Homo sapiens: one gene and its partner. The protein of the gene in region 2 interacts with the protein of the main gene of each other region in a pairwise test. Each region holds a gene or a part of one and is shown on either strand. Other genes may lie near its edges.

What was found. Proteins that work in one complex are often made in the same cells at the same time.
Region 1: the proteins of TRIP11 (region 2) and DSCAM interact in a two-hybrid assay, tested with the Homo sapiens proteins (one large-scale study listed by BioGRID and IntAct).

What each region holds. Positions count from the first base shown.
Region 1 is NC_000021.9:40,836,138-40,841,435, forward strand, and holds part of DSCAM (cell adhesion molecule DSCAM isoform CHD2-42 precursor), read right to left. Parts: intron 1-5,298. UniProt on the Homo sapiens protein: Cell adhesion molecule that plays a role in neuronal self-avoidance. Promotes repulsion between specific neuronal processes of either the same cell or the same subtype of cells.
Region 2 is NC_000014.9:92,012,560-92,016,059, forward strand, and holds part of TRIP11 (thyroid receptor-interacting protein 11), read right to left. Parts: intron 3,303-3,500; coding exon 3,137-3,302; intron 2,019-3,136; coding exon 1,656-2,018; intron 1-1,655.

The DNA of each region.
Region 1 (5,298 bases), on a different chromosome or scaffold from region 2:
TCTCTTAAGCTTGTTCAGTAGAGTTACCCAAATGGTTTCCCACTATGGATCTCTTGCCTGGAGCTTCATGGTTACAGGCAGGTTTCAAAGGGCTTCTCTGCTGGGACTCCAGCTGCTATCGAAGAAGGGACCAATGTGAGAAATACAATGGAATCAAGACCATAAGCAAAGCACAAGCATTTATAAACCTGAATATCAAATACGCTAACAGGAAGAAAAAATGGTGCAAAGAGATAGATATTAATACACACAGATGATTCGTAAGCTGCTAGCATCCACATTGGGAGTGCCTCTGGCAGGATCTACATACCCCTCTACTCAGAATCTTTCTTGTTACTAAACCCCAGCACCAATTATCCCGAAAGATGCCCAAATTCTTATGGTGGTCAGTGAAGACCTAACCCTGTATACAGACATTCCCAATAAATTACTACCCAATACAGAGTTCTCCAACAGTTCATCGAGATGTACTTGGAACTTTACTGGATCAACTTCCTAGCTACTGTTTGGGTAGCTTCTTTGCAAGTGTGTGTTTTGCAAAGGTGAATTATGGTTCATGTGGATCAGAACAGGCAAAGGCATGCGTTAATAATGCAAATTCACAGGTCGTGCATACACCAAGGCTACAGAATCAGACTCTCTGGTATCAGAGCTGGAAGACGACATAACAAACATGGAAACCATAACTTGGGAGACCCCAGTGGTGGTGGGAAAAACAAGACAAAGTCACATGGGATTAGAAACACCTGGGGAGCTTTCCAAACTACAGCCCATTCCCCACAACGCTGGCATCAGAATTTCCAACAGGAGGCTAATGAGAGGAAATGCATTTCAGGAAACTTCCATATCTCCTTTCTCTGTTCTCCCTGACCCAGAACACCGGGGTGTTGAGAACCAGTGTCCTCGATCCTTACCTGGGAAGGCCCACATAGAAGGATACTAACTAATGTTCAGCTTGAAGTGTCAACAGACTGTGGTCTACCTCTTATCCTGATGTAAGGGTGGAGGGGATGTGTGGCTATGGGGCTGGCACAGCCTCTTCCTCCATATTCAGTGTTCCCATGAACATTTGCCTCCGCTGCCTCCAAGCATCTAATCCCACAGAAGCCTACAGCATATTCTATATTCTTACTCTCCCATCCTCAGCAATGGGGCGGTAGAGGTATGGGGGAGAGTGTGGGGCCCCTCGTGCCTGTGATTAATAAAGGCTGATGATGTGAGATCCCCCAAGACACAAATAAACCAACCACTGATGAGAGTTCCTTGCCCAAAACAAATACCTAGATCACCTCGAGGTCCACATTTTTCTACCCAGATTTCTATACAAATATTCAATGAAGCCTATTCTAAAACAGTAGCCACCAAGGATTTAATAGCTATTGATTTGGGTGAGTCATAACAGACACATCTGGTAATTAACCATCCTACCCACATTCTGCTGTCACGTTAAGGACCCGGATAGAGGTTGCTAACTTGGGCTGCCAACTTAAACAACTTGTGAAAGGAGGATTCTGTCTGTTAGACAGCATTCCACATTTCTTGTGCATTTCCTTTTCACTAGCCAACGAAATAGACAAGTGACTAGCCTTTGCAGGAACTGACAAGAACTAGATCCGGCAGGAGTGATAAAGTAGTCATGGTTCCCGTTTTGCTGGTAGAGGCCATTGTTGTCATTGTTGGGTGTCTTCAGCTCATTCCTAAAGTCTCACAGGTAATATTCCAAAGCATTGTTATTTCTACCCTGCAAGCTACATATCAGTTATTAAAAATGCTCTACAGCCGAGATTAAAAAATAAACATGGCAATTAAGCAGACTGGGACTTGGATTTTCTGTATCTCTATGGAACCCAAGATCAAATCACACCACAGCGGGGCTAACTGTGAAAAGAATTGAATCTTGAGTTTCTCTCGTGAGAAAGTATATTTCCTTAAAGTAATAAGTTTCCTTATTATATAGGAAATATAGCTGTCTTTTGTATTTAAAAAAATAAATTAAATTAAAATATACATAGAATTGCAGCAGTTCTAATTATCTTTCTACTTGTCTTTCTCTTATGATACAATCACAGAAATGTTCCCATCATCCAGCAGTTCATGCTTATGAGAAGAATCAATGCTTTACTCAATATTAGGAAGATTAATCAATGGTAAGAGAGTCCACTGCAATCACCCACCTGAAGTGGCATGGATGGCTCTTCAGTATACGGCATGGGCTACCTCCCAACAGCCCCCCTCAGCCCCTGTGACCCATTCACGCTGGTCCTAACACCAGCTTCTACCTGATCATTGTGGTGACTCCATGATAATGCTGAAGCCACTTTGGGACCCTCAGGTCATCAAGGTCAACACTGGGAGTGGTATCACCATACTGCTGTTTTGCAGAAGCATCCAATAATGAGAAAGTTGGGATATTTAGAAAGAACTATAAGCTGGCTTTTACTGTTTTATTTTCAGTGTGAAAAAAGTGTAAATTTTATGTAAAACCAGACTTAAAACTGTTTCCTGTTTCTTCATTTTAATACTAAAAGAGTCAAGGCTTGTATGAATCAAAATCAGTAATTAAATAGTTCAAATTTCTTTCCATCACCTTATCAAAATGCCAATTTCATAGTCTGGAGAGACTAGCGACAAAATGATCCATTTTATAGATGGTTCTTTATAAGACAAAAGGCAAACACTTTCCACAGCATCATCTTCTAGGGCAGGTCTGATTTTGTCCAGATTTCCAACCTGTAAATCAGCAGTATTTGCATAAAAATTCAACGATTCTACTATTAATAAAACCCAAAGCCCACTTGGAACCAGGAAAACCAGAATGCTATAAGTAACAAATACAGGCCTAGAAAGGAAAACTATTTCATTTCTTTTTTTATGCTAAATTGTATATACTTAAGGAACCTGGGGGACATTAGCTAAGTGATATATGCCAGACACACACATACAAAATCCATGATCTCACTTATATATGGAATCTTATAAAGACTATTTCATTTATAAGAGCATGTGGCATTCTTTTTCCCTTGTCCAATAACATTTGTGTCAATCACAAAGCCTGGGGTGATATTGTCTGCCCGACACAGACTGACAAATAAGGACTTCATATATTGCAATTTAAAACCCCAGAGTTTGAGAACAGGTTAACATGGAGGGACTTGTGATAATCACAGGATCCTAAATTTGAACTCTTCTCTCAGTAATTGCTTTATTACTGAGATGTATGCAGATTTCACCCTCCTACTATTCTGCCGTGAAACATCTTTAAGAAAGGCAAGGCTTATTGCAGAATAAATATTTGTAGCAGTGCTGCAAGTTCAATGTCCTCCCTTCACCTCCAGTCTTTTGTTCAGACCTACTCAAGCTGTTTCCAGATAATATATATATTGCCTTCTCATCCCCAGCTTCCCAAGCCTAACATAGACTTAAAGACTGAGAGCACTTCTAGAATATTCTGCAGAGAGTCCAAAGAGATTTCATAATATTTCTGCAAGGGTTGGTATGCTTTTTTTTTTGTTTTTTTCTCCTACAAAATGCTGTACAGAGCTGGGACGTTAGGGGAAGCTAGCATTTAGTATGGAGGTGATCTCTTGCATTTTCAATTCTTTCTTTCACTGTCTTTGCGGCTGCACTTAAAAACAGCTTTCTATAAATAGGACTGCTTGCTCACTCTTAAATCTTACTCACTGTCTTCTCAGTAAAAAAAATAACTAGGGATACAGGCAAGATTCATTAATCCCTGTCATTCTAACTCTCTGTGTAGTAGCCTCTTTCCTTCTTCATATCTTGACATATATCTTCTCAATCCCATTCATCCCTCTCTGTTAAACCATAATATGTATTTACATAATCCAGGGGGCTTCAAGATCAAAAATTAATCCAGTTGCATGATTTTTAAAAAATCAGCGTTGATCACATAGAACAAATAGAGATGTCCAAAAATCAAAAGCTGATAAATATTGTAAGCTATAAGACACTTAATTTGATTTTTATATTTGGACAAAAATCAACTTTAACAATGATTAAGATATCCTTTCATGTTACTTTGATGAAGATAGCAACTGTCATATTTGAATCTGCAAAATAAGAAATAAAGATAATGACAAAAAACCCATAAATCCATAGGATGCTGAAGAAAACAGTAGTATGACTTTTTAAAGATGAATTAAGGCCTGAGAAAGTAAGCTTTGTTTTGATGTCCTGGGTGGCTCTTTGATGAAGAAATGAATTCCCAAGAGCTGGGGGTGGCGGAGTGGGCGGGGAACCTAAATGTCGGTTTGATGTTTCTGGCTGGCTTTCAAAATGCGACAGGGCAATAAACACTGTATAGGAATTTTAAATCATGCCATTTAGCAGCGTACACTTGAGAACAAGGGGTCCAGCACATGGATGAAATTATTGTCTGTGACACTTGACCCACTGCACGGCAGGAAGAGCACCTAAAGCAATTACATAGCTGTTGTGCAACAGTGATGAAGTCCCATCAGATACTCGAAATATGAATCTCTTTTTGAAAAGAGAAGAAAATGCCCCAAGCCACAGGCGTTTCTGGAAAATAAACATTTCTACCGTGATTGAGTCACTACGACAGAAAAAGGTGGGTAGAGCAAAAGAGTCCAGTGGTTTAGTCAGAATGCAAGATAGGGACCAGGAGAGCAAGTCCAGGAAAGCAAACTAAGAGGGGGAGCCAATCAGCTAGAGGCAGAAGAGAGAGGTGGACGGGAGGGAGGAAGGTGGACAGGAGTTAAGGAGGGGAGAAAGGCTCTGCCTATCACTTTTTCCTTTCACTCCGTAAGGAACATCATCTATTTCCACTACTCCATACCATGTGCTCTGCTCTGTGCTAAGGACACGCTCAGGCTTCGCACGCATTTCAGACTATGGAGGCTCCTGTCTAGCTAGTGAGAGAGGCAGTCACTAGCCAAATCAGCATCACCTAAATGCAGGCGTAACGATTACCACAGACTCCATCAAGGAAACAGCCAAGATTTTTAGAAAAAGGATAATATGGAGGGAACTGATTTTCAGGAGCAGATTTGTGAAACCCAACCCTTCTGAACGTCCTGGTCAGAAGCTGTCTGACCTCTGAACCAAAATCCTGTCCCTGCTTCCCTCCTGCCACCTTGACAGACCTTGCGTCACCTGCAGAAAACATCCGTGTGCTCCACCCTTTGAATTCAGAACGACATAGTGGATACTCCGTGGGGCTGCTGGAATCTTCCATTCCCACTGCCTTATCTTAACCCATAGATTCGGCAAGGGAAATGCAACTTTGAATTTTCTGGCATTTTCACAACATTGAAG
Region 2 (3,500 bases):
AAGTGGCAGTGCTAGGTACTTCTCAGTGGAGGTTAATACCTGCACTGAATCAATATACTGAGAGTCGGCTAAAAGAGCCATAGAGACACTCCACACAGAGAAAGCAGAAAATGCAAGGGTAACAGAGTGAAGAGGTAACATTGCTGCTTTAAGGAGCTATAGAAAATTCAATATGGTTCAAGTTTAGAATGTCAGGAGCATGGGAATAGTTGAAACTGAAGAGATAGGCAGGAACTAGATCATGAGAGACATTATCATGTCTAACTAAGAAATTTAAACATCATCCCGAAGTTCACAGGCAGCTATAAAGTACTAAATGCAGGGGAGTAACCTGCTTTGCATTTCTGACAAATTATTCTGGCTGCAGAATGAAAAAAATAGATTGAAGGAATCATGGAGAACAGAGAATTTTAAAAGCTAACTCTTCAGCTGGGGGCGGTGGCTCACGCCTGTAATCCCAGCACTTTGGGTGGCCAAGGTGGGCAGATCATGAGGTCAAGAGATCGAGATCATCCTGGCCAACATGGTGAAACCCTGTCTCTACTAAAAATACAAAAATTAGCTGGGCGTGGTGACACATGCTTGTAGTCCCAGCTACTTGGGAGGCTGAGGGAGGAGCATCACTTGAACCCGGGAGGTGGAGGTTGCAGTGAACCGAGATCGTGCCACTGCACTCCAGTCTGAGCTACAGAGCGAGACTCTGTCTCAAAAAAACAAACAAAAAAAAAGCTAACTCTTCAACATTTACTATTGGCTAGACACTATCCTAAAGAGCGGCAGAAAGTAACTCATATAATCCTCATTACTAAAACTACAAGGAAGATACCATTATTATCCCAACCCTATAGATGAAATAACCAATGCATAGAGATGTTAACCTGTCCAAGGTCAGCTAATTAGTGATAGAGCTCGATTCCAACCCAGTCATGTCCTTAACCACTACGCTATTCTGCTCCATTCAGAGAGCTGCCATAGTTAACATAGGCAAAAAGCAATTATGACTGGCTGAAGTAATTCTGTGTCAATGGAATAGAAAAAAGAGGAAGGACTAAGGCAGTGGGTTTGTCTTTTAAGCACATAAACTCATCTGGATCACCCAATATGATAAGTAAGTAAATGTATTAGTCTTATGTAAGTAAATTTATTTTTTAAATAAGTAAACTTATTTTTTAAAACGTAAGTACAATTACTTTAAAATTTATTTTATTTACTGGTGTTTGGCCTATTTCATTTAGTACTAATTTTCTGTAACACAGAATACTGGTACAGTAACTAAATATCATCATGAGCATAGAAAATGGTGGAAGACCTATGGCTCTAAGCACTCAGGGCTTTGCTTGGATATAGGAGATCGTTTCAAACAGGTAACAACTGACTTTGAAGAAGAAAGGCTGTATTCCCTAACTGGAGGATGTGGGCTGTGATGAGTTACAGAAAGTATAGCAATACCTAATCCTTTTTAATAGGAAATTCCTATTTGCAATCTATTAACTCTTACACTGAATCCAAACCACACAATTCTACCCAAATGACACACAGTCATTTCCAGGAATATGCCATTTCCACTAAGTATTCAGTTAGTGAAGCATCTGTCTCTAAAAACAACTACTATGCAATGAAACAGCAATCTGAAATAAGTTCCAAAGACTGTATACCAGACAGTGCTTGTTGTAGTCTGAACACTTCTTCCACTGATGCACTCTGGGCAAGAATTCTTTCCTTTTCTGTCATAGTATCACTTTGCTTCACAGCAGAAGGCTGCAATTTACTACATTCCAATTTCAAGTTTTCACATTCTTCCATTATTTGTCTCTTTTCCACATTTAGCTGTTCTTGTTCTCTCCTCAAAATATCTCTGTCATTTTCTGCAGAAGATAATTTTTTATTTATATCTTTTATTTTATCCTCAAGTTGTTCCATTTTTTTGGTAGACTCCACTTTTTCTATTTGTAGAACTTGAATAGTTTTTTGCATCTCATAGATTTTAGAGAGATCAGTTTCTATAACTCCAGAGCCACCTAGAACATAAACACAAAACAATGACATCAAATGTCAAGTACCAAGAAATAAACGGTTTGCTATATACAACTAAGAGATATAAGACAGTTCAGAATTTGGAAAGCTTAAAAGTTAAATTACTATAATAAACTAAGTGTTTTAAAATAAATAAGTTGGGGGAAAATATTTGAATCAACTACATAAAGGCCTATGTATCTTAGTTTGAAAGAAAGTGATAATATCTCTAATCATTTATTACCAAAGTATCATCACCAAACAATGCAAAGAAATCTATAAATTATAACTATTTACCACAAAGGTAAAAAGGACATTTCCATTTTCACAGAATTTTTTTTTTTTTTTTGAGATGGAGTCTCACTCTGTTGCCCAGGCTGGAGGGCAGTGGTGCCATCTCGGCTCACTGCAACCTCTGCCTCCTGGGCTCAAGTGATCCTCCCACCTCAGCCTCCTGAGTAGCTGGGACCACAGGCGAGCACCACCACGTCCAGCTAATTTTTGTATTTTTAGTAGAGACGGGATTTCGCCATGTTGGCCAGGCTGGTCTCAAACTCCTGGCCTCAAGTGATCCACACACCTTGGCCTCCCAAAATGCTGGGGTTATAGCCATAAGCCACCACTCCCGGCCACAGAATCTTAAAAGCAGAGGTGCCACTGCAAATTTCTGGCAGATAAGCAGAACTAGTCATTTACACTTCCTTATAACTTAGGGCAAGTTTACAGCACTGTCCTGGTCTTAGAATGCTAGGTCTATCATTTAGTTATGTCATCTAATATGTTAAATTAATAAAACTATCAACTGGCCAGGTGCAGTGGCTCATGCCTGTAATCCTAGCACTTTGGGAGGCCGAGGTGGGTGGACCACCCGAGATCACGAGTTTGGGACCAGCCTGGCCAATATGGCGAAACCCTATTGCTACTAAAAATACAAAAATTAGCTGGGCATGGTGGCAGGCACCTGTAATCCAGCTACTTGGGAGGCTGATGCAGGAGAATCGCTTGAACCCGGGGGGCGGAGGTTGCAGTGAGCCGAGATCGCGCCAGTGCACTCCAGCCTGGGCAACAGATGGAGACTCCATCTCAAAAAAAATAATAATAATAAAGAAATAAAACTAATAACCTTGTTGTAACAGATTTTCAAGTTCTTCAATTCGTTCTTCATAGTCACTTAATTCTTCTCGATGTCGTCGACTTATTTCTGTCAATTTCTGTTGGTGTGCATTCTGCAGTACTGACATTTCATGTTGATGGTCATCAATTTCCTGACTTCGGTTCTGTTTTAGTTCCTTAAAAAATAAAAACAAAGTTATTCACATTTATAATCAATAAATTTATGTAAGCTATATATTTAACTGTTGTCCAAAAGTGTGCATTATTAAAAAGAATTCTCAGAACATGTTAAGGCTGAAAAGAATTTAAACACAGACCCAAAATTAGGACTATTCTGAACAACTTCACCCTTTCCTTTCTTAGGTCTCAAAAAC